Linked DNA regions of Homo sapiens. The protein of the gene in region 1 purifies or fractionates together with the protein of each later gene. This does not show direct contact. Each region holds a gene or a part of one and is shown on either strand. Other genes may lie near its edges. The genes, in order: AGRN and NID2.

Region 1 (9,646 bases):
TAAGGATGTCCACTGCAGAGGAGGGCGGGGAGGCAGCAGGGTGGGGGCAAGGATTGGGGGTGGGGCTAAGCCACCATCAGGCTTTGAGTTGGGGGCAGGAGCCCGGATTAAGGCGGGGTTTCGGCCAGATGCGGTGGCTCACGCCTGTAATCCCAGCACTTTGGGAGGCCGAGGCAGGCGGATCACCTGAGGTCGGGAGTTCGAGACCAGCCTGACCAACATGGAGACACTCTGTCTCTACTAAAAATACAAAATTAGCCGGGCGTGGTGGTGGGCGCCTGTAATCCCACCTCGTGAGGCTGAGGCAGGAGAATCGCTTGAACCTGGCAGGCGGAGGTTGCGGTGAGCCAGGATCGCGCCACTGCACTCCAGCCGGGGCAAAAAGAGCAAAACTCCGTCTCAAAAAAAAAAAAAAAAAAAAAAGCAGGGGGCGGTTTCAGGGATAAAAGTGGGGAATCCTCGGAGCTTTTCCAGCCGGCCCTCCCGGTCGCCCTTTGCAGTGCTTGGCGCCCCTGTGCCGGCCTTCGAGGGCCGCTCCTTCCTGGCCTTCCCCACTCTCCGCGCCTACCACACGCTGCGCCTGGCACTGGAATTCCGGGCGCTGGAGCCTCAGGGGCTGCTGCTGTACAATGGCAACGCCCGGGGCAAGGACTTCCTGGCATTGGCGCTGCTAGATGGCCGCGTGCAGCTCAGGTGGGCGGGGAGGGGACGGGGCCGGGGCAGCTCAGGTGGGCGGGGAGGGGACGGGCGGGGGAGGGGGGGCCGGGGCAGCTCAGGTGGGTGGGGTGGGGACGGGGGCGGGGCAGCTCAGGTAGGCGGGGTGGGGACGGGGCCGGGCGATGGTCCTGAGCACCTGCTCCTGCCCTCAGGTTTGACACAGGTTCGGGGCCGGCGGTGCTGACCAGTGCCGTGCCGGTAGAGCCGGGCCAGTGGCACCGCCTGGAGCTGTCCCGGCACTGGCGCCGGGGCACCCTCTCGGTGGATGGTGAGACCCCTGTTCTGGGCGAGAGTCCCAGTGGCACCGACGGCCTCAACCTGGACACAGACCTCTTTGTGGGCGGCGTACCCGAGGACCAGGCTGCCGTGTGAGTCCCTTGGAGGGTGGTGTGGCCCCGACCCCGGCCCTTTGGGGTCCCGGTGTACGAGGTGGCTTTGCCTGTGGCCCCTGAGCCCTGACCCGGTGTCCCTCCTGGTGGCAGGGCGCTGGAGCGGACCTTCGTGGGCGCCGGCCTGAGGGGGTGCATCCGTTTGCTGGACGTCAACAACCAGCGCCTGGAGCTTGGCATTGGGCCGGGGGCTGCCACCCGAGGCTCTGGCGTGGGCGAGTGCGGGGACCACCCCTGCCTGCCCAACCCCTGCCATGGCGGGGCCCCATGCCAGAACCTGGAGGCTGGAAGGTTCCATTGCCAGTGCCCGCCCGGCCGCGTCGGTGAGGGTGGGGCCGGGGCGGGTGGGAGTGGGACCCCGGGGCCTGTGGGCGGTACCCAACCGACGCCTCCTGGGACCTCGGTCCCGGTCCCGTCTTCCTCCATCCAGGACCAACCTGTGCCGATGAGAAGAGCCCCTGCCAGCCCAACCCCTGCCATGGGGCGGCGCCCTGCCGTGTGCTGCCCGAGGGTGGTGCTCAGTGCGAGTGCCCCCTGGGGCGTGAGGGCACCTTCTGCCAGACAGGTCGGGGGCGTGGGGCTCTCGGGGCAGGGGGGGGGGGGGGGTTGAACGTTTGGGCGGGTACAGGTTCCAGGTAGCATTGCAGTTAGGATGCGGCTCAGTCTAGTCTGGGTTTTGAGTTAGGATCCACACACGGCTGGCATGGGGTGCAGGAGGCCCCGGGGGTCAGGACTGAGGCCTTGGTGACTCTCCCTACAGCCTCGGGGCAGGACGGCTCTGGGCCCTTCCTGGCTGACTTCAACGGCTTCTCCCACCTGGAGCTGAGAGGCCTGCACACCTTTGCACGGGACCTGGGGTCGGTGGGGCAGGAGCAGGGGGAAGGGCCGGCCCCCACCTCCGTCTCTCCTGTGGGGAGGGGACAGCAAAGACACCCCGACTCCCCATGACCCCAGGGAGAAGATGGCGCTGGAGGTCGTGTTCCTGGCACGAGGCCCCAGCGGCCTCCTGCTCTACAACGGGCAGAAGACGGACGGCAAGGGGGACTTCGTGTCGCTGGCACTGCGGGACCGCCGCCTGGAGTTCCGCTACGACCTGGGCAAGGGGGCAGCGGTCATCAGGTGGGCCGGCAAGGGTGGCTCTGGGAGGCCTGGGGCACTGGCCCGGGGCCGGGGCACCAGCAGGTCGCTCAGGCCCTGGGTGGTCGCGTGGCCGGTGGTGGACAGAGCCCACTCACGCTGCCCCTCCTCACCAGGAGCAGGGAGCCAGTCACCCTGGGAGCCTGGACCAGGGTCTCACTGGAGCGAAACGGCCGCAAGGGTGCCCTGCGTGTGGGCGACGGCCCCCGTGTGTTGGGGGAGTCCCCGGTGAGTGCTCTGGGCCGCGAGGGGACTCCCGCTGCTGCCTGCTCTTCCTCCTCGGGCGGCAGCCCCGCCCCTGCCGGCGCTCACGGAGCTGTTTTTCTGTCCTGTTCTCTTGGCCGCCTGCCCTGTCCTCTGCCTCCTCTGCCTCCCTGCTCTCTGCTCTCGCTCTGCAACCCCACCCGCTCTTCGGAGGCCAGAAATCCCGCAAGGTACTGTCGGCCTCTCATCCGCTCACCGTCTCTGGCGCCTCAACCCCTAGGGTAGCTCCTCCCCCACTAAGGACCCTGCCATTTCTGTGTGATTAACGCTGCCCCCTAGATAGGCAATGGGCGGGTGGGGCGGGTGCGTGCAGGTGCCTGGGCCCTGGGTCTGCACCGTGGGTGGGCTCTGCACAGCCACTTACCTGGCGTCCCCGCAGGTTCCGCACACCGTCCTCAACCTGAAGGAGCCGCTCTACGTAGGGGGCGCTCCCGACTTCAGCAAGCTGGCCCGTGCTGCTGCCGTGTCCTCTGGCTTCGACGGTGCCATCCAGCTGGTATGTGGGGGCGGGGCGTCCCAGCAGGGCCTCCGGGGCGGGCGGGGTGGCAGGCGGGACAAGGCCCTCACCCTGCCCTGCAGGTCTCCCTCGGAGGCCGCCAGCTGCTGACCCCGGAGCACGTGCTGCGGCAGGTGGACGTCACGTCCTTTGCAGGTCACCCCTGCACCCGGGCCTCAGGCCACCCCTGCCTCAATGGGGCCTCCTGCGTCCCGAGGGAGGCTGCCTATGTGTGCCTGTGTCCCGGGGGATTCTCAGGACCGCACTGCGAGAAGGGTGAGCCTGGCACAGGGCAGGGGGCGGAGGCCGGATGGGCCCGGAGCCCACGAGGCCCCACCCTCACCTGCCTATCTCACAGGGCTGGTGGAGAAGTCAGCGGGGGACGTGGATACCTTGGCCTTTGACGGGCGGACCTTTGTCGAGTACCTCAACGCTGTGACCGAGAGGTAACGTGCCATCCTCTGCTGGCTGTCGGTTCCATCTGTGCCCTCGGGGCGGGACACCGGACCCCCACACCAGGAGGGCCCAGGAGGGGACGGCCCGGTGCTGCCACCTCTGTCCTCCCGCCTCTCTCTCACCTCCCGGTCCTCCCGCCTCTCACTGTCTGTCTCTTTGTTTCCAAGCGAACTGGCCAATGAGATCCCCGTGTGAGTAGAGCTCGGCGCCCCCCGCTCCCTCTCACTCCCACTCCTCCATCCTTCCTGGTGGGGAGCAGAGTCCGGAGCCCCCGGGGAACTTTCCATCCCTTGTGGCGGAGGATGGGGGTCCGGCGCTATTTGGCTGCAAGAGGCCGTTTCCTGCCTCAGAAGTGCAGTCGCCCCTCCCAGGGCACAGGCCGAGGGTCGCCCCACAGCCAACCCCCACCACTGAGGCTGTACACACCTGTGCGCATATGCATGCATGTCTGTGTCCGTGTGCACTTCCGCGTGTGTGAACATGCAGCTGTGTCTGTGCGTGTCTATGTATATGGAGTGGATGTGCAAGTGTGTGTGAATATCCAGCTGTGTGTGTGCATGGGTCCATGTATATGTGTGTGTGTATATGTGGGGGGGACATGTAGATATGCGTGTGTGACTATGCGGCCGTGTGTGTGCATGGCTCCATGTATGTGTGTGTATATGAGGGAGACATGCAGGTATGTGTCCGTGTGTGTGTGTGTGCATATGGGTCCATGTATGTGTGTGTATATGAGGGAGACACGCAGGTGTGTGTCTGAGTGTGTGCGCACATGGGTCCATGTATGTGTGTGTATAGGTGAGGGAGACATGCATGTGTGTGTCCGTGTGTGTGCATGGGTCCATGTGTGTATAGTGTGTACACATGGGTCCATGTATGTGTGTGTATATGAGGGAGACACGCAGGTGTGTGTCCGAGTGTGTGTGCATGGGTCCATGTGTGTATAGTGTGTGCACATGGGTCCATGTATGTGTGTGTATATGAGGGAGACACGCAGGTGTGTGTCCGAGTGTGTGTCCATGGGTCCATGTATGTGTGTGTATATGTGGGGGAGACAGGTGTGTGTCCGAGTGTGTGCATGGGTCCGTGTATATGCGTGTATATATGGGGGGATATGTAGATGTGTGTGTGTATGAACAGGTGTAAGTGGGGAGCACTCAGGTGTGTCTGTGTGTGTTCGTGTACACGTGTGTATGTGTGTGAACATGGAGGGGTGTGTGTGTCCGTGTGTAGGTTTGCGTGCATGCACACATGCATGTGTGTACTGGGGCATCCAAGCCCCTGGTCTCCACTCCATACCACCCTACGCCTACCTCCTTGATCTCTGCGCCCAGCCTTGGCTGTGCTCCCCTGCTGTCTGCACGTGGGTGTCTGCACGTGGGTGTCTGCATGTGGGTGTCTGTGCCCTCAAGTGTCTCGTGTCTGCACGTGGGTGTCTGCACCCTCACGTGTCTCGTGTCCGCACAAGCATGTGTAGGTGTCCCTGCTGGGCTCTTTGGTGGGCGGCCAGTGATCCTCGAGGTCACGCATGTCTTCTGTGGGTGCCTGCTCCTTGCACCCCACAGTGTTGAGATGGGTTTGCATTGGCCCCGCCTGTCCCCTGCTCACCCGCCTCCCTCTCTTCCTGCTTCTAAGCCCCGAAACTCTGGATTCCGGGGCCCTTCACAGGTGAGCACGTGGCAGCAGTGCCTGCAGACCCCTGGCTGGCCCATCTGTCCTCCCGCCCGTCTCTCTGATCTCTCTCTGCCAGGCTGCCCCTGTCTCCATCCCTCTTCTCCCTCCCACTGTCGGTGTCTGCCCACCAGCCACCCCTGGGTCCCGTCACAGCCCTTGTGGCCTCCGCAGCTGGGGCCCTTGTCCTCCCGCCTCCCCCACCCTGTCCTGTTGCCACCTTCCTAGAGGCCCTGACCTGCCCTCTGCCCTCCAGCGAGAAGGCACTGCAGAGCAACCACTTTGAACTGAGCCTGCGCACTGAGGCCACGCAGGGGCTGGTGCTCTGGAGTGGCAAGGCCACGGAGCGGGCAGACTATGTGGCACTGGCCATTGTGGACGGGCACCTGCAACTGAGCTACAACCTGGGCTCCCAGCCCGTGGTGCTGCGTTCCACCGTGCCCGTCAACACCAACCGCTGGTTGCGGGTCGTGGCACATAGGTGAGTAGGGAACCCAGCGTGCCGAGAATAGTGGCGAGGGCTGCCCAGACTTGCCCAGCTGGGCTGTGTCCAGTCACTTGTGACCAGGGGTCAGGGAGGACACGCCTTGCTGCCTGAGCCGAGGTCACTGCCAGTGGGAGGAGGAAGGGCCAAGAAGATGCAGGAGAAGCAATGATCAGTTTCCACGTCTGAAAGGCATCCCGGCCCTGCCCGGAGCCTGCCGGGGGTCGCTCCAGTCTGAGCCTGGCCGTCGCCTCCAGCAAAGCTTGAGCTGCAGGAATGTCCCCGGCCTTGGCTCCCAGTGCCCTCCTTGGGGTCAAGGCCACCTCATCCTTGCCCCCAGGGGTGATACCTCGGGGGTTCTCCAGGCTGAGGCACCTGCAGGGCATAGGAAGGATGCAGGGCTTATGGTCTAGAGGAGGCAGAGGGAACTCTGGGCCCTGATGGTCTCCCCCTCCCTGCACACCCAGGGAGCAGAGGGAAGGTTCCCTGCAGGTGGGCAATGAGGCCCCTGTGACCGGCTCCTCCCCGCTGGGCGCCACGCAGCTGGACACTGATGGAGCCCTGTGGCTTGGTGAGTGTTTTGGGGAGACTAGAGAGGGATGCCCAAGGGTCTCATGATATCCGAGGGACAGACTCCACCCCCCAGCGCCCACCCTTGAGTCAGGGTGCATGTGAGCCGGCGGGCTGGGCTCTCTTCTCCCGCTGTAGCCCCTGCAGTTCCCAGTGCTGTGGGGCCGGGAGGCGGGTGCCCAGGTGTGGGCCCCCTGCTGGTCACCTGCTCGTTGGGGTGCCCATCAGCATCACTGAGTCACAGCCGGGTGACTCCCACTGTCTGTGCTGCAGGGGGCCTGCCGGAGCTGCCCGTGGGCCCAGCACTGCCCAAGGCCTACGGCACAGGCTTTGTGGGCTGCTTGCGGGACGTGGTGGTGGGCCGGCACCCGCTGCACCTGCTGGAGGACGCCGTCACCAAGCCAGAGCTGCGGCCCTGCCCCACCCCATGAGCTGGCACCAGAGCCCCGCGCCCGCTGTAATTATTTTCTATTTTTGTAAACTTGTTGCTTTTTGATATGATTTTCTTGCCTGAGTGTTGGCCGGAGGGACTGCTGGCCCGGCCTCCCTTCCGTCCAGGCAGCCGTGCTGCAGACAGACCTAGTGCCGAGGGATGGACAGGCGAGGTGGCAGCGTGGAGGGCTCGGCGTGGATGGCAGCCTCAGGACACACACCCCTGCCTCAAGGTGCTGAGCCCCCGCCTTGCACTGCGCCTGCCCCACGGTGTCCCCGCCGGGAAGCAGCCCCGGCTCCTGAATCACCCTCGCTCCGTCAGGCGGGACTCGTGTCCCAGAGAGGAAGGGGCTGCTGAGGTCTGATGGGGCCCTTCCTCCGGGTGACCCCACAGGGCCTTTCCAAGCCCCCATTTGAGCTGCTCCTTCCTGTGTGTGCTCTGGGCCCTGCCTCGGCCTCCTGCGCCAATACTGTGACTTCCAAACAATGTTACTGCTGGGCACAGCTCTGCGTTGCTCCCGTGCTGCCTGCGCCAGCCCCAGGCTGCTGAGGAGCAGAGGCCAGACCAGGGCCGATCTGGGTGTCCTGACCCTCAGCTGGCCCTGCCCAGCCACCCTGGACGTGACCGTATCCCTCTGCCACACCCCAGGCCCTGCGAGGGGCTATCGAGAGGAGCTCACTGTGGGATGGGGTTGACCTCTGCCGCCTGCCTGGGTATCTGGGCCTGGCCATGGCTGTGTTCTTCATGTGTTGATTTTATTTGACCCCTGGAGTGGTGGGTCTCATCTTTCCCATCTCGCCTGAGAGCGGCTGAGGGCTGCCTCACTGCAAATCCTCCCCACAGCGTCAGTGAAAGTCGTCCTTGTCTCAGAATGACCAGGGGCCAGCCAGTGTCTGACCAAGGTCAAGGGGCAGGTGCAGAGGTGGCAGGGATGGCTCCGAAGCCAGAAATGCCTTAAACTGCAACGTCCCGTCCCTTCCCCACCCCCATCCCATCCCCACCCCCAGCCCCAGCCCAGTCCTCCTAGGAGCAGGACCCGATGAAGCGGGCGGCGGTGGGGCTGGGTGCCGTGTTACTAACTCTAGTATGTTTCTGTGTCAATCGCTGTGAAATAAAGTCTGAAAACTTTAAAAGCATTGCTTTTGTCCATCCTCACCAGCGCGCTGGCCCGTTGGCTTCTTGCTCCGCTTTGTGGTGGGAGCACGGACTTGGAGCTCCCTTGGGTGGCCCTGGATGGAGCCAGGCCCTGCACAGGGATCCTTGTGGCTGATGAGGCCCTGAGTGGGGAGCACACACTGCTGAGCACTGTGGGAGGCGGGGCCGTGGAGGCAGGAGGCTCTCTGGCGTGCACGTGTGGGTGCGTGTACGTGTGGGGGTGTGTGTGTGTGGGTGCGGGTACGTGTGGGTGCATGTGCCTGCTCTCTGGCGTGCACGTGTGGGTGCGGGTACGTGTGGGTGCGGGTACGTGTGGGTGCATGTGCGTGTGGGTGCGTGTGCCTGCTCTCTGGCGTGCACGTGTGGGTACGTGTGGGTGTGGGTGCGTGTGCCTGCTCTCCGGCGTGCATGTATGGGTGCATGTACGTGTGTGTGGGTGCGTGTGCCTGCTCTCCGGCGTGTATGTGTGGGTGCGTGTGCGTGTGGGTGCGTGTGCTTGCTCTCCGGCGTGCATGTGTGGGTGCATGTACGTGTGTGGGTGCGTGTGCCTGCTCTCCGGCGTGTATGTGTGGGTGTGTGTGCCTGCTCTCTGGCGTGCACGTGTGTGTGTGTGTGTGTGTGCCTGCACACATAATTGGCCCACATCTGTGTCAGAGCACAGGGTTGGGAGGAGGCTGCACCCAGGACTGGAAGGGTCTGGGGGGAGCCAGGGTGCGTGGGGCTGTTGGGCAGCCTTTTCACTGGCCCAGGTGTGCAGAACCAACCCTTGGCACTGCTGGAAGCCCCTAACTAGAAACCCCTGGGGTAGCTGGGCTCCTGGACTCCCTCTAACCTGCTTCCTAAATTAGTGTGTGGGTGACAGCACTGCAGAAGCTGAGCCTCAGGGAAGGGCGCGGTGGCTCACACCTGTCATCCCAGCACTTTGGGAGGCTGAGGCTGGAGGATCGCTTGAGGCCAAGAGTGGGAGATCAGCTTGGGCAACATAGTGAGACCCCATCTCTGCAAAAAAATTTCTTTAATTAGCCAGGCGTGGTGGTACACACCTGTAGCTCCAGCTACTCCGGAGGCTGAGGCAGGAGGATCACTTGAATCCAGGAGGTTGAGGCAGCAGCAAGCTGTGATTGCACCACTGCACTCCAGCCTGGGTGACAGAGCGAGAACCTGTCTAAAAAACAGAGCTGGCACCCAGCACCGGCAGATGTGAGCCCTGGGGAGAAGCAGGGGAAGAAGGGGTAGGGTGTGTGGCCAGCTGGGTGGCCCTTCGCAAACTGCTGTCTCTTATGAAAAATAACTAAGTGTAGTTTTCTATTTTGTATTAATGATTTTAAAAAAAAAGCCAGGTGCGCTGGCTCACACCTGTAATCCTAGCACTTTGGGAGGCCGAGGCGGGTGGATCACCTGAGGTCAGGAGTTCAAGACGAGCCTGGCCAACATGGTGAAACCCTGTCTCTCCTAAAATACAAAAACTGGCTGGGCATGATGGTGGGTGCCTGTAGTCCCAGCTACTCCGGAGGCTGAGACGGGAGAATTGCTTGAACCCAGGAGACGGTGGTTGCAGTGAGCCGAGATCACGCCATTGCACTCCAGCCTCAGTGGCTGAAGGAGACTCCGTCTCAAAAAAAAAAAGAAAAAAGAAAACCACAAAAACATCGAAATAAAATAACACCAATGGCTGGGCACATTGGCTCATGCCTATAATCCCAGCACTTTGGGAGGCTGAGGCAGGCGGATCACCTGAGGTCAGGAGTTCAACACCAGACTGGCCAACATGGTGAAACCCTGTATCTACTAAAAACACAAACATCTGGGCGTGGTGGCAGGTATCTGTAATCCCAGTTACTCGGGAGGCTGAGGCACGAGAATCGCTTGAACCC
Region 2 (11,149 bases), on another chromosome or scaffold:
TTTACCTTTCACCTAACAAGCTGCCATTGTAAATGGTAAGTGTGCAAACCTGTGTGTGCACTTGGGTATGAAGGCAGGCGTGGAAGAGGGATTATAAATGGAGGCTTGCCTTCCCCCGGATTAGGGGCTGATCCATCTTCTTTCCTTCATGTGGCTGTTATGAAGCTGAAAGAGACAGTGTGTGTTCTTGGCTCAGTAAGTACCATCCTAAAAATACAATATTCCACAAAACTGTTTAAAAAGACTCCCAGGTTAGCTTAACAGTAACTAGTTAGCCCATTGTAATTACAGTTTAAGTCTCATAATAGCCTTTCATGGGAGCCTGCTCATTGTTATAACTTCTTTTTCTGTAATAGAAAAATGTAGTACAGCTTCCAATCTATTTATAAACCTTTGCACAGTTGCACTTGTAAGTTGCTGGCTGCATCGCCCTGCCTCTTTTTACTTAGATAAAAGCTATGACTCCACCTAGTTTAACTCTCCATATCTAGACTGTCTCTCCTCCATCTTCTCTCTCCTTGTTTCATAATTCAGCCTCAGAATAAGAATTGGGTTGCAGAATAAGGCTTCACAAAATAACTGAAATAAGATACAATCCAAGCCTGTTATTTCCTTAATTTGTGGGCAGAACAGCTTGTAAAGTTTGGATTGATTTTTATCTGAATATTATGAAAACGGCTTTTTTTTTTTTTTTTTTTTGAGATGGAGTCTCTCTCTGTCGCCCAGGCTGGAGTGCAGTGGTGCGATCTCGGCTCACTGCAAGCTCCGCCTGCCAGATTCACGCCATTCTCCTGCCTCAGCCTCCCGAGTAGCTGGGACTACAGGCGCCCACCACCACGCCTGGCTAATTTTTTGTATTTTTAGTAGAGACGGGGTTTCACCGTGTTAGCCAGGATGGTCTCAGTCTCCTGACCTCGTGATCCGCCTGCCTCGGCCTCCCAAAGTGCTGGGATTACAGGTGTGAGCTGCCGGGCCCAGCCAAATGGCTGTTCTTTAGACCTATAGCAGATTGCCTTTTTACTTGGTGTTCAGAAGTACATTAAGAAGAAATGCGACTTCTGGCAATGCAGGGGTGAGGAAGAGGTGTTCTACTTATTTTAGAGATGAGGAAGCTGAAAGACAGTTTGCATAGTTTCCACAAAGCCCCCGAGGGAGGGCTGAGGTTGAGTCCTAGAGCTTGGCGCTTTCTGCAGCCCCTCATTCCTTGAGCTCTGGGAGAAAGTCCTGATGGCCCTTAAGCCATGAGCACACTGGTGAGTGTGTGAGTCCCTCCTGTAGCTGCTTCCTTACACTTAGTTGTGAATTTCTGAGCTGGAGAAACCTGAGATTTTGACACATCCAAGTTACATTCATTTCCTTTTACTCTAAATGTTTTTTTCCCTTTCTTAAACTAATAGACAGTGATACAGTTTTCTTCACAGCCATCTATTTTACCATGATCCATCCTGGGTTTTTTTTTTTTTTTTTTCTGCCTTGAGTTTTATATCACTTTTCTGTTTAAGTTAAGCTTGTCACTTTCTTGTTTAAATAAAGTTGAGTCATGCCTAATTTTCTATTTTTATCAAACTGGAATTTCTTAGCCAAGTCATCAAGGCCCTATACTAAATCTTGAGTCATAACTTCATTCCTACTATGTTCTAATCAGATTTTCCACTTGAACCTACACTGTCTGTCCTGCCAACCCTCAGCTTGCTGCTTTCCCAAGGATCTGCAGGCAGCACTCCAGTACTGTTCAAAAGCTAATGCCGCTGCTGCTACTCTCATTTCTTACCTGTGCTGTTTTTCAACATGCTGTAATAGTCATCTCGATAATCTTCCCTGCTTGCTTCTACCATTAAACCCAGTTTATAAAGTATGACTCGAATTATACTTGAAGTCTGTGCTGATTAACCCCAGACATGTGGTGACCCCTAATCTAGTGCTCATGATCTCCGTACTTGGATCCCATTGAAGGGGTCGTGGAGAGTAGCAGTTAAGATTCTCCAGCTAGATGTCCTAGGTTCGGTTCCCACCTTTGCCACTCACTGCCTATGCGACTTCAGGTGCTTTAGTCTACTGTGCCTCAGCTTTATCTGCAAACGGGTTAAAAAATTGTCCCTGGCCAGAGTGGTGGCTCATACCTGTAATCCCAGCATTTTGGGAGGCCTAGGTGGGAAGATCACTTGAGCCCAGGAGTTCGAGACCGAGACCAACCTGGGCAACGCAGGGAGACCCCTCCCCCCAACCCACCCTACCAAAAAATAAAGTAGGCAGGTGTGATGCATGCTTGTGGCTGCGGCTACTCAAAAGGCTGAAATAGGAGGATCACTTGAGCCTGGGAAGTCGAGCTTTCAGTGAGCCGAGATGGCACCACTGCTCTCCAGCTTGGGTGACAGAGCAAAACCCTGTCTCAACAACAGCAACAAAAAAAAGTCCCTGCTACCTAGGGTTGTTGTGCAAATTAAGAGTTGTTGGCCGGGCGGGGTGGCTCACGCCTGTTATCCCAGCACTTTGGGAGGCCGAGGCAGGTGGATCACGAGGTCAGGAGATCAGGACCATCCTGGCTAACATGGTGAAACCCTGTCTCTACTAAAAAATACAAAAAATTAGTCAGGCGTGGTGGTGGGTGCCTGTAGTCCCAGCTACTCAGGAGGCTGAGGCAAGAGAATGGCGTGAACCTGGGAGGTGGAGCTTGCAGTGAGCTGTGATCGTGCCACTGCACTCCAGCCTGGGCGACAGAGCGAGACTCCGTTTCAAAAAAAAAAAAAAAAAAAAAGGTTGTTAAATGTAAAGCTTGTATATGTTAAGCGCGATTGAAGTGTTAACTTTGTTATATTTTTATTTGCTGATGGAGGTCTTTATCTTGGTGACATTGTACCTATAATGCTATGTCTCATTAGCTCCTTTACTTTCTGTTCTCCCTGGGAATACTGGGTAAAGATTGATCTTTGGATTTCTTCCTCCCCTCCTGTCTCCTCGTTTCCAGATAGACCTGGAACACAACTACCACTTGGTTTTTCCTAAGAGTAGGGTGGGTGTCCTCCTTCATGCCAGCATCCGTGTCTCACACTAGAATTCCATGCCATCCCTGCTCAACAGCATGCTCCTGGAGTCTCCAGCCAACTCCACCTCCTGGGGATGTGGAGGCAGAGGTGTGTGCAGCCGCTTGGCCTCCTGGTGGCCATGCTTGGGATTGGCATATTTCCTAGTGCCCCGGAGAAAGCACCCTCCTGTCCATCCACAACCCCCGCCACACCCTACCCCCTTGGCTATTTCCTTTATGAACTATGGCATTTGCTCCAGTTTCCCCATTTCTTTGCAGCACAGATGGCCCTCTTCTTTTAATGGGCAGAATAAGTAGGAAATGGAAGAAACAGCTGCCAGAGCACTGAATTTATCCTAGTCCTCCATAATTTCTTGGAAGATCTGCGAGTGGGGCCCAAGCTGTCTGCTACTGCGTGGAAATCATGCTTGTACCATACCCATCATAGTTAAACCCTGCCAAGGGCATAGGGCATTTTAATAGCTTGAATCCCTGTTGTTTTGCCCTCCTCTGTCCCCTTCTCCCCATGCCTTTTCTTTGAGGTAGGTGCGTGTGTTCTTTAAGACCCTTCCCTCAAAACAATCTTGGTAGCGAGACCAGCTATTATCTTTTTTAAGTTCAGTGTTCCCTAAAAGAAGGATGGTTAGACATAAGACATTTGTTAGCTTCTCTATTATGTCTTCCTCTCAGGATGTGTTTAGGTTGAACCATATAAAAGTGCTGATATTTAGCCCTTTTTGACCCACAAAAATAGTGGTTTCATGAAGTTCAACCTAACATGTACTTACTGGTTTGCTTTCATTTTACTGCACTCAAACCCACGGGTGCAGTCTCATCTTAGTTCACCAACTCTGCAATGGGACCCAGCCGGGAGCAGTAAGCAATTCTTCTTGCCAGCAGACAAAGCAGATTAATTCCCTTGGGTTGAATGTTATGCCGGTCTCTTAAACATCAAAAACTGTTTGTTATGATCTAAACTGCTTCTATGGAGCAGATGTTGTGTCCCCGATGCAGCAGTGACATTGGAATCATTTAGTCCTTTTAAGGCAAGTTTGTTTTATTTTTCAGTCTTCACGTATAATGCTGCCAACAAGGAAACCTGTGAACACAACCACAGACAATGCTCCCGGCATGCCTTCTGCACGGACTATGCCACTGGCTTCTGCTGCCACTGCCAATCCAAGTTTTATGGAAATGGGAAGCACTGTCTGCCTGAAGGTAATTGACTGGGGCCAGGAACTCCTGTGTGTCTATTCCTGCTGCTTACCTGTTTCCAGCTACCACTGTGAGCTCTGCTTTATGGACCAAACATCTCCACTACTTAAATCAGAGTGCTATCAACTTGCAGGTGCTCAATAAATGTGTGAGGAATGAACTGGTTTGGGCTGATTCCCAATTTGAGGATTATCCAGAAATGCTTCCTTCTGCCAGCTCATTAGAGCCAAAGTGTAGTGGAGTAGAAGGAGGAGGGGAGAAAACAGACTGGAGGCAGGACTGTTTCATAGATGGATAATTGGTTGGTTAGGAAATCATTAAAGTGACTTGCTAAAGAGTGAGTTTTGGAAGTTGTCAGTGGAATAATTATACCTGGGTACACCCATCTCTAGCCAGGATGACGTCCAAGCCTAACTGGATTTGCTGTCTTTTAGGGGCACCTCACCGAGTGAATGGGAAAGTGAGTGGCCACCTCCACGTGGGCCATACACCCGTGCACTTCACTGATGTGGACCTGCATGCGTATATCGTGGGCAATGATGGCAGAGCCTACACGGCCATCAGCCACATCCCACAGCCAGCAGCCCAGGCCCTCCTCCCCCTCACACCAATTGGAGGCCTGTTTGGCTGGCTCTTTGCTTTAGAAAAACCTGGCTCTGAGAACGGCTTCAGCCTCGCAGGTGAGTAGGGCCTCTGAGAAGGCCGGTAGTCAGCATTGCTTTGGCAGTGGTGCTCCTTGGGGCACTGTCTTTAGGCCTTTACGCAGTGACAGAGGAATCACTTGTTTAATGTACTAGAGCCACATGTGTGTAGTTTTCTGGCCACAGGTTGTTGGGAATGGTTTGACCTCACATCACTGATTTTTGAAAGGCAGTGATTTCGTCTAAATGTTCTCCCAGCTGTTCTGAGAAACAGGATGATTCCATTCAGAACATTTGTGTCCTCTTACCCCAATTTGTTGCAGCATATTTGTCAGGCTTTTTAAATTATGCACAGATCTGTCAAATGCAAAAATGGTACTTGGGGCACCTGGGGATGATTTTACTTCATGGGGAAGGGGTGCTCTTCTCCTCCCAGCTCCACAACCTATAATAGTATAGGCCGGTGCACCCCAGACTTGAACCTGCACACACATCACTTGGAGGTCTTGTCAAAATGTAAATTCTGGTTCAGCAGGCCTGGGGTGGGGTCCGTGATTTTGCTTTTCTACCAAGCTAGGAGGTGAGGTACCAGTGTTGCTGGAAAGGCCACCCGTTGACAACAAGGATTTAGAAGATACTTTTTGGATTCTCACCTTCCAACCTGAAAACTTGTTTGCTAGAGGTTTTATCTTTATTGCATTAAAAATAGTTTTGTGAGAAGTTCTTTCTCCATCTTTAACTGCAGAGCTCGGTAGCTGTTAATAGGTTCTTGCTTTAATCAAAATTTGAATAAAGCCCTTGGGTCAAAAGTAGATAAAAAATGGCACACCTGGATAAATTTGTATTTCAGATAAACAATTTTCTAGTATAAGTATTACCCACATATTTCATGAGACATACTTATCTGAAATTCAAACAAAACCCTGAATGTCTTAGGTGGTAGTTTATTTGTTTTTGTTTTTTTGTTGTTAGGTTTATTTGTTTGTTTGTTTTTTGCTAAGTCTAGCAACCTTAGAGAAAAGTCAAGGACGTTCCCAAGAGTATTTCTCACAGAATACAAGCTTGTTCAAAGAGAAGCTGGGTGAGGTAAGGCAGGATGAAACCATATTCTTCAATGGAAAAGTTTGGGAACTTATGGAATCAACAGCTGATAGTGCTTACTCTCAGATATCAGATAATCTCCTTAGGCACGATCTCCAACAGCAGTAGAAATTGGGAGCGGGCAGTATATACTGGTAACTGTTTAAGCAAGACCTCTTTTCATCCCTGTGCTGAATGTTTTTCATCTCCAGGTGCTGCCTTTACCCATGACATGGAAGTTACATTCTACCCGGGAGAGGAGACGGTTCGTATCACTCAAACTGCTGAGGGACTTGACCCAGAGAACTACCTGAGCATTAAGACCAACATTCAAGGCCAGGTGCCTTACGTCTCAGCAAATTTCACAGCCCACATCTCTCCCTACAAGGAGCTGTACCACTACTCCGACTCCAGTATGTATAACCAGTCTTCACATCTGTAAAATGGGGATTATGCCCATCTCACAAGATAGATACAAGGCTTAAATGACTTACATGGCATGTCCTTAGAACAGTGCATGGAACATAAAATGAGCTCTATTATGTTATTACTCTTATTGTTACCATGAAATATATCGTGTAAGTGAGCAGAATGGCTGCTATACATAAGAATATCTATATCCCTACATAGTATTTTCAAATAATAAAATCAATAGCAACATTGTCCATGGGGTGGGTAGGGATGGTATAATTATATACAGTTTTTAACCATCCTACTTTCTGCAACATGGAAAAATAGTGATTATTGGAATTTATATTTATCTCAACCTTGTTTCAGCTGATGAGTTCAGGCTGCTTTAAAAAAAAAAAAAATCACAGAAAGAGGCCAGGTGCAATGGCTCATGCCTGTAATCCCACCACTTTGGGAGGCCAAGGTGGGTGGATCACCTGAGGTCAGGAGTTCAAGACCAGCCTGGCCAACATGGTGAAAACCTGTTTCTACTAAAAATACAAAAATTAGCAGGGTGTGGTGGCACGCTCCTGCGATCCCAGCTACTTGGGAGGCTGAGGCAGGAGAATCATCTGAACCTGGGAAGTGGAGGTTGCAGTGAGCCGAGATTGTGCCATTGTACTCCAGCCTGGGCGACAAAGCAAGACTCCATCTCAAAAACAAAACCAAAAAACACAGAGATGCTATAATTTATTATAAAACTAATGCTAGATTTGGAGTCAAAAGATAAGAATTTATATCCTGGACTTGCCATTTAATATCTATAGGGAAAGGCCTCTTAATATCTGAGAATGTATTTTCTCATCTTTCACATGGAACTAAAAATGCTTTTTCTATATTATGTGATCAATGTGTGCGAAGCGTGATGTGTTCTGTGAAAGTACTACCTGCGCACAGGATGCTGCCTCCATCACAGCTGCTGTTGTGCAGCACAGCAATCCGGATTGAGTTGTGCCTTTCCTCTGACCCCTGCTGCTCCTATGCTGAGAGCTGGCAGCCTGGCAGGAGATGTAGGGAAGACAAGGGGAAGCAGAGACCTGGGCTGTGAACAAAATGGTCAGTGTCCGGATCACTGACCTGAGCTTGACTCCTAGACTCAGATGGTGAGAGACAACCCTTTCCCTTCTCTGGAATCCTTCAGATTTACTGAAGTGCGAGGTGTTGGAAGTCGTCACTTCTGTGAAATGTAGAAGATGGATTGGTTTAAAATTTAGGGTGTAGAGTCAAACCAATGTGAGTTTCAGTTCCAGCTCTACCATGTGGCAGCATTGCATCTTAGGCTACTTAACCTTTGTGAGCCTCTGATCACATGATTTAGTGCCCACCTCACCAGGCTGTTGTGAGGAATAAATGAGGCAGTATGTAGAGAGCACTGTTGGCATGGCTGGCCCTTAGTAACACTTATTCTTTGTGTATAATAACATGGACAATTGTAGTGCCTTCTCCCTCTCAGCACTGTGGCTTTGCATCCACTCAGGTTTTTGGGATTTCCTTACACATTTTTTCATATAAACTCAGGAGGTTCCCAAGGGAACACACTCCAAGAATTAGATGAAAAAAACTGCAGAAAAATCCACCTCACATGAAAATCTCTGTATTTAATATTTTTAAAAAATTACCACTGTGTTTGTTGCAGCTGTGACCTCTACAAGTTCCAGAGACTACTCTCTGACTTTTGGTGCAATCAACCAAACATGGTCCTACCGCATCCACCAGAACATCACTTACCAGGTGTGCAGGCACGCCCCCAGACACCCGTCCTTCCCCACCACCCAGCAGCTGAACGTGGACCGGGTCTTTGCCTTGTATAATGACGAAGAAAGAGTGCTTAGATTTGCTGTGACCAATCAAATTGGCCCGGTCAAAGGTAAGGTTTCCTTTTTTGTTGTTGGGTAAAAATGACATCCTTTTAAGTAGAGTTAGAATGATTCACAGAGGTTACTAAGGGTTACCTAGTGCCATGCTGTGTTATGTGCTAGGTATAAGGATGAATAGAGCAGATCCTTGCCCTTGAGTTGGAAACAGAGGCAGAAAAGAGTTTTAGGGCAGGGAACAGTGTCCCTGCCAAAGTCAGGAAATAGAGCATAGTATGTGAAGCTGGTTTATAGCAATACCCAACTGTGCGTGCCAATCAGGAATATACCTGTGAACAAGGCAGACTGGAATTAGGAGGGAGAGTGATGCTGACAAGTATTTGTTACAAGTGTGATGAGAGCAGGGCACTGTGAGTCTAGTTTGAAGATTCAGAAAAGATGTCCCCAAGAAAGTGACATTTTAGCTAAAACAGATGAGAAGAATTTCATCCAAAACTAAGGTGGAGCAAAGAGCTAGTATCTGGAAAAACCAAACATCATAGAACTTGATGTATAACCTCCCCCTCCATGATTCCCAGAACATTATACTTAATGGTGAAAGACTGGATGCTTTTCCCTGAAGCTTAGGAACAAGACAAGGATGTCTGCTGTTGCCACTTTTATTCAATTCAGTACTAGAATTTCTAGCCAGGGTGATTAGGCAAGAACACAAAATAAAAGCCATCTAAATTGGAAAAGGACAAAGTAAAATTAGTCTCAGATGACATTTTGTGTAGAAAATCTCAGGAATTCACTAAAACACTATTAGAACTAAAGAACAAGTTCGCAATGTTATAAGATATGCAAGATCAGTACACCAAATTGTATTTCTCTATAGTAGCAATGAGCAAACTAAAGATTAAGAAATTGTTTCAAAAAGAGATAAATTTTTAAAAAGAAGTGCAGTACTTGTACATTGCATCCCACAAAACATTTTTGGAAAAAAATTTAAGACCCAGTTAAATGGGAAGATGTTCCACATTCATGGATTGGAAGACTTAATACTGTTAAGATGTGAATACTTCCCAAATTGATCTATTAATTCAACATAATCCCTATCAGAATCTCAGCTGGCTCTTTGAAGAAATTGGCAAGCTGATTCTAGAATTTATATGGAAATTCAAAGAACACAGAATAGCCAAAACAATCTTGGAAAAGAATAAAGTCAGACTTGTATTTCTCAAACTCGAAATCTAGAGTAATCAAGACAGTGTGGTCCTGGCGTAAGGATACATGTAAAGATCAAAGGAACAGAAGTGGGAACCCAGAAATACTCACATTAAAAGTCAATTGCTTTTTCAACAACAGTGCCGGGAGTGGGGAGGGATAGCATTAGGAGATATACCTAATGCTAAATGACGAGTTAATGGGTGCAGCTCACCAACATGGCACATGTACACATATGTAACAAACCTGCACGTTGTAAACATGTACCCTAAAACTTAAAGTATAATAATAATAGAATTCTGATGGTTAAAAGACAAAACAAAACAAAAAACACAGTGCCAAAACAATTCAATGGAGAAAGAATAGTCTTTTAAACTATTGTTAACTATGGTGCTGGGACCACTGAGTGACCACATACAAAAGAATGAAGTTGAACCTTTTACCTCACAGCATATCCAACTCAAAATGGGCCAACAGACCTAAGTGTAAGAGTTAAAACTTTTAGAAGAAAACATATGGGTAAATTTTTGTGACTTTGAATTTGCTAATGGTTTCTTAGGTACGACACTAAAAGCACAAGCAACAGCAAAATAAACTGGGTGTCATCAAAATTTTAACAGTTTGTGCTTCAGAGGACATTATTAACAAAGTGAAAACACAGCCATAGAATGGGAGACAGTATTTTAAATCATGTGATATTTGTTCTAGAGTATACGAAGTATCTTACAACTCAATAAAAAAACAAGCTAACTAAAAGATGGGCAAAAGCTCTGCAAGGACCTCTCTCCAAAAAGATATACAGATACCCAATGGGCATGTGTAAAGATGCTCAGCATCATTAGTCATCAGGGAAATGCAAATCAAAACCACAATGAGATACTACTTTACATCATGTGGTCGAGTATAATCAAAAAACGGGTAATAACAAGTGTTGGCGAGAACATGGAAAATTCGGAACCCTCATACGTTGCTGGTGTGATTATAAAATGATGTGGCTACTGTGAAAAACAAAATAGTGGTTTCTCAAAGTGAAACACAAAGTTACCATTTAATGGAGCAATTCTACTCCTTTCTATATACCCAAAAGAAATGAAAACATAGATCCCCACAAAAACTTATTCGTGTATATTCATAGTGGCAGTATTCATAATAGCCAAAAGGTGGAAGCAACATACATGCCCATCAGTTGATGGACACCAAAAAATATATTCATATACTGGAATATTATTCAACCATAAAAAGGAATGAAGTACGGATACATGCTGCAACATGGATGAACTCTGAAAACCTTAAGTGAAGGTAGTCAGTGACAAAGGACAGCATACTGAATGGTTACAATTATGTGAAATATCCAAAATAGGCAAATCCACATACATAGAAAGCATATTCATGGTTGCCCAGGGCTAAGAGATAATGAGAGCATAGGGCGTTAATAGCTAAAGGGTACAGGGTTAATTTTGGGGGTGATGAAAATGTTCTGAAATTGATTGTGGTGACGGTTGGATAACACTGAATAGACGAAATTGTTTAATTATGTACTTTAAACGGATGAATTGTATGGTATGTGAATTACTTCTCAACTGAAGGCCAGGCATACTGGCTTATGCCTGTAATCCCAGCACTTTGGGAGGCTGAGGTGGGTGGATCACCTGAGGTCAGGAGTTCAAGACCAGCCTGGCCAACATGGTGAAACCCTGTCTCTACAAAATAAAACATATATA

Evidence for each region.
Region 2: the proteins of AGRN (region 1) and NID2 purify together in Homo sapiens (affinity purification with mass spectrometry; 2 studies listed by BioGRID and IntAct, with this or other methods). This does not show direct contact.

Annotation. Positions count from the first base shown.
Region 1 is NC_000001.11:1,048,367-1,058,012, forward strand, and holds the end of AGRN (agrin isoform 2 precursor), read left to right. Parts: intron 1-500; coding exon 501-693; intron 694-869; coding exon 870-1,085; intron 1,086-1,199; coding exon 1,200-1,429; intron 1,430-1,536; coding exon 1,537-1,671; intron 1,672-1,866; coding exon 1,867-1,963; intron 1,964-2,060; coding exon 2,061-2,225; intron 2,226-2,359; coding exon 2,360-2,471; intron 2,472-2,665; coding exon of another isoform or gene 2,666-2,677; intron 2,678-2,886; coding exon 2,887-3,003; intron 3,004-3,086; coding exon 3,087-3,279; intron 3,280-3,361; coding exon 3,362-3,449; intron 3,450-3,626; coding exon of another isoform or gene 3,627-3,650; intron 3,651-5,094; coding exon of another isoform or gene 5,095-5,127; intron 5,128-5,386; coding exon 5,387-5,611; intron 5,612-6,081; coding exon 6,082-6,185; intron 6,186-6,457; coding exon 6,458-6,615; 3' UTR 6,616-7,010; coding exon of another isoform or gene 7,011-7,033; 3' UTR 7,034-7,750; downstream 7,751-9,646. UniProt on the Homo sapiens protein: Isoform 1, isoform 4 and isoform 5: neuron-specific (z+) isoforms that contain C-terminal insertions of 8-19 AA are potent activators of AChR clustering.
Region 2 is NC_000014.9:52,035,873-52,047,021, reverse strand, and holds part of NID2 (nidogen-2 precursor), read left to right. Parts: intron 1-4,090; coding exon 4,091-4,240; intron 4,241-4,671; coding exon 4,672-4,917; intron 4,918-6,170; coding exon 6,171-6,371; intron 6,372-8,044; coding exon 8,045-8,275; intron 8,276-11,149.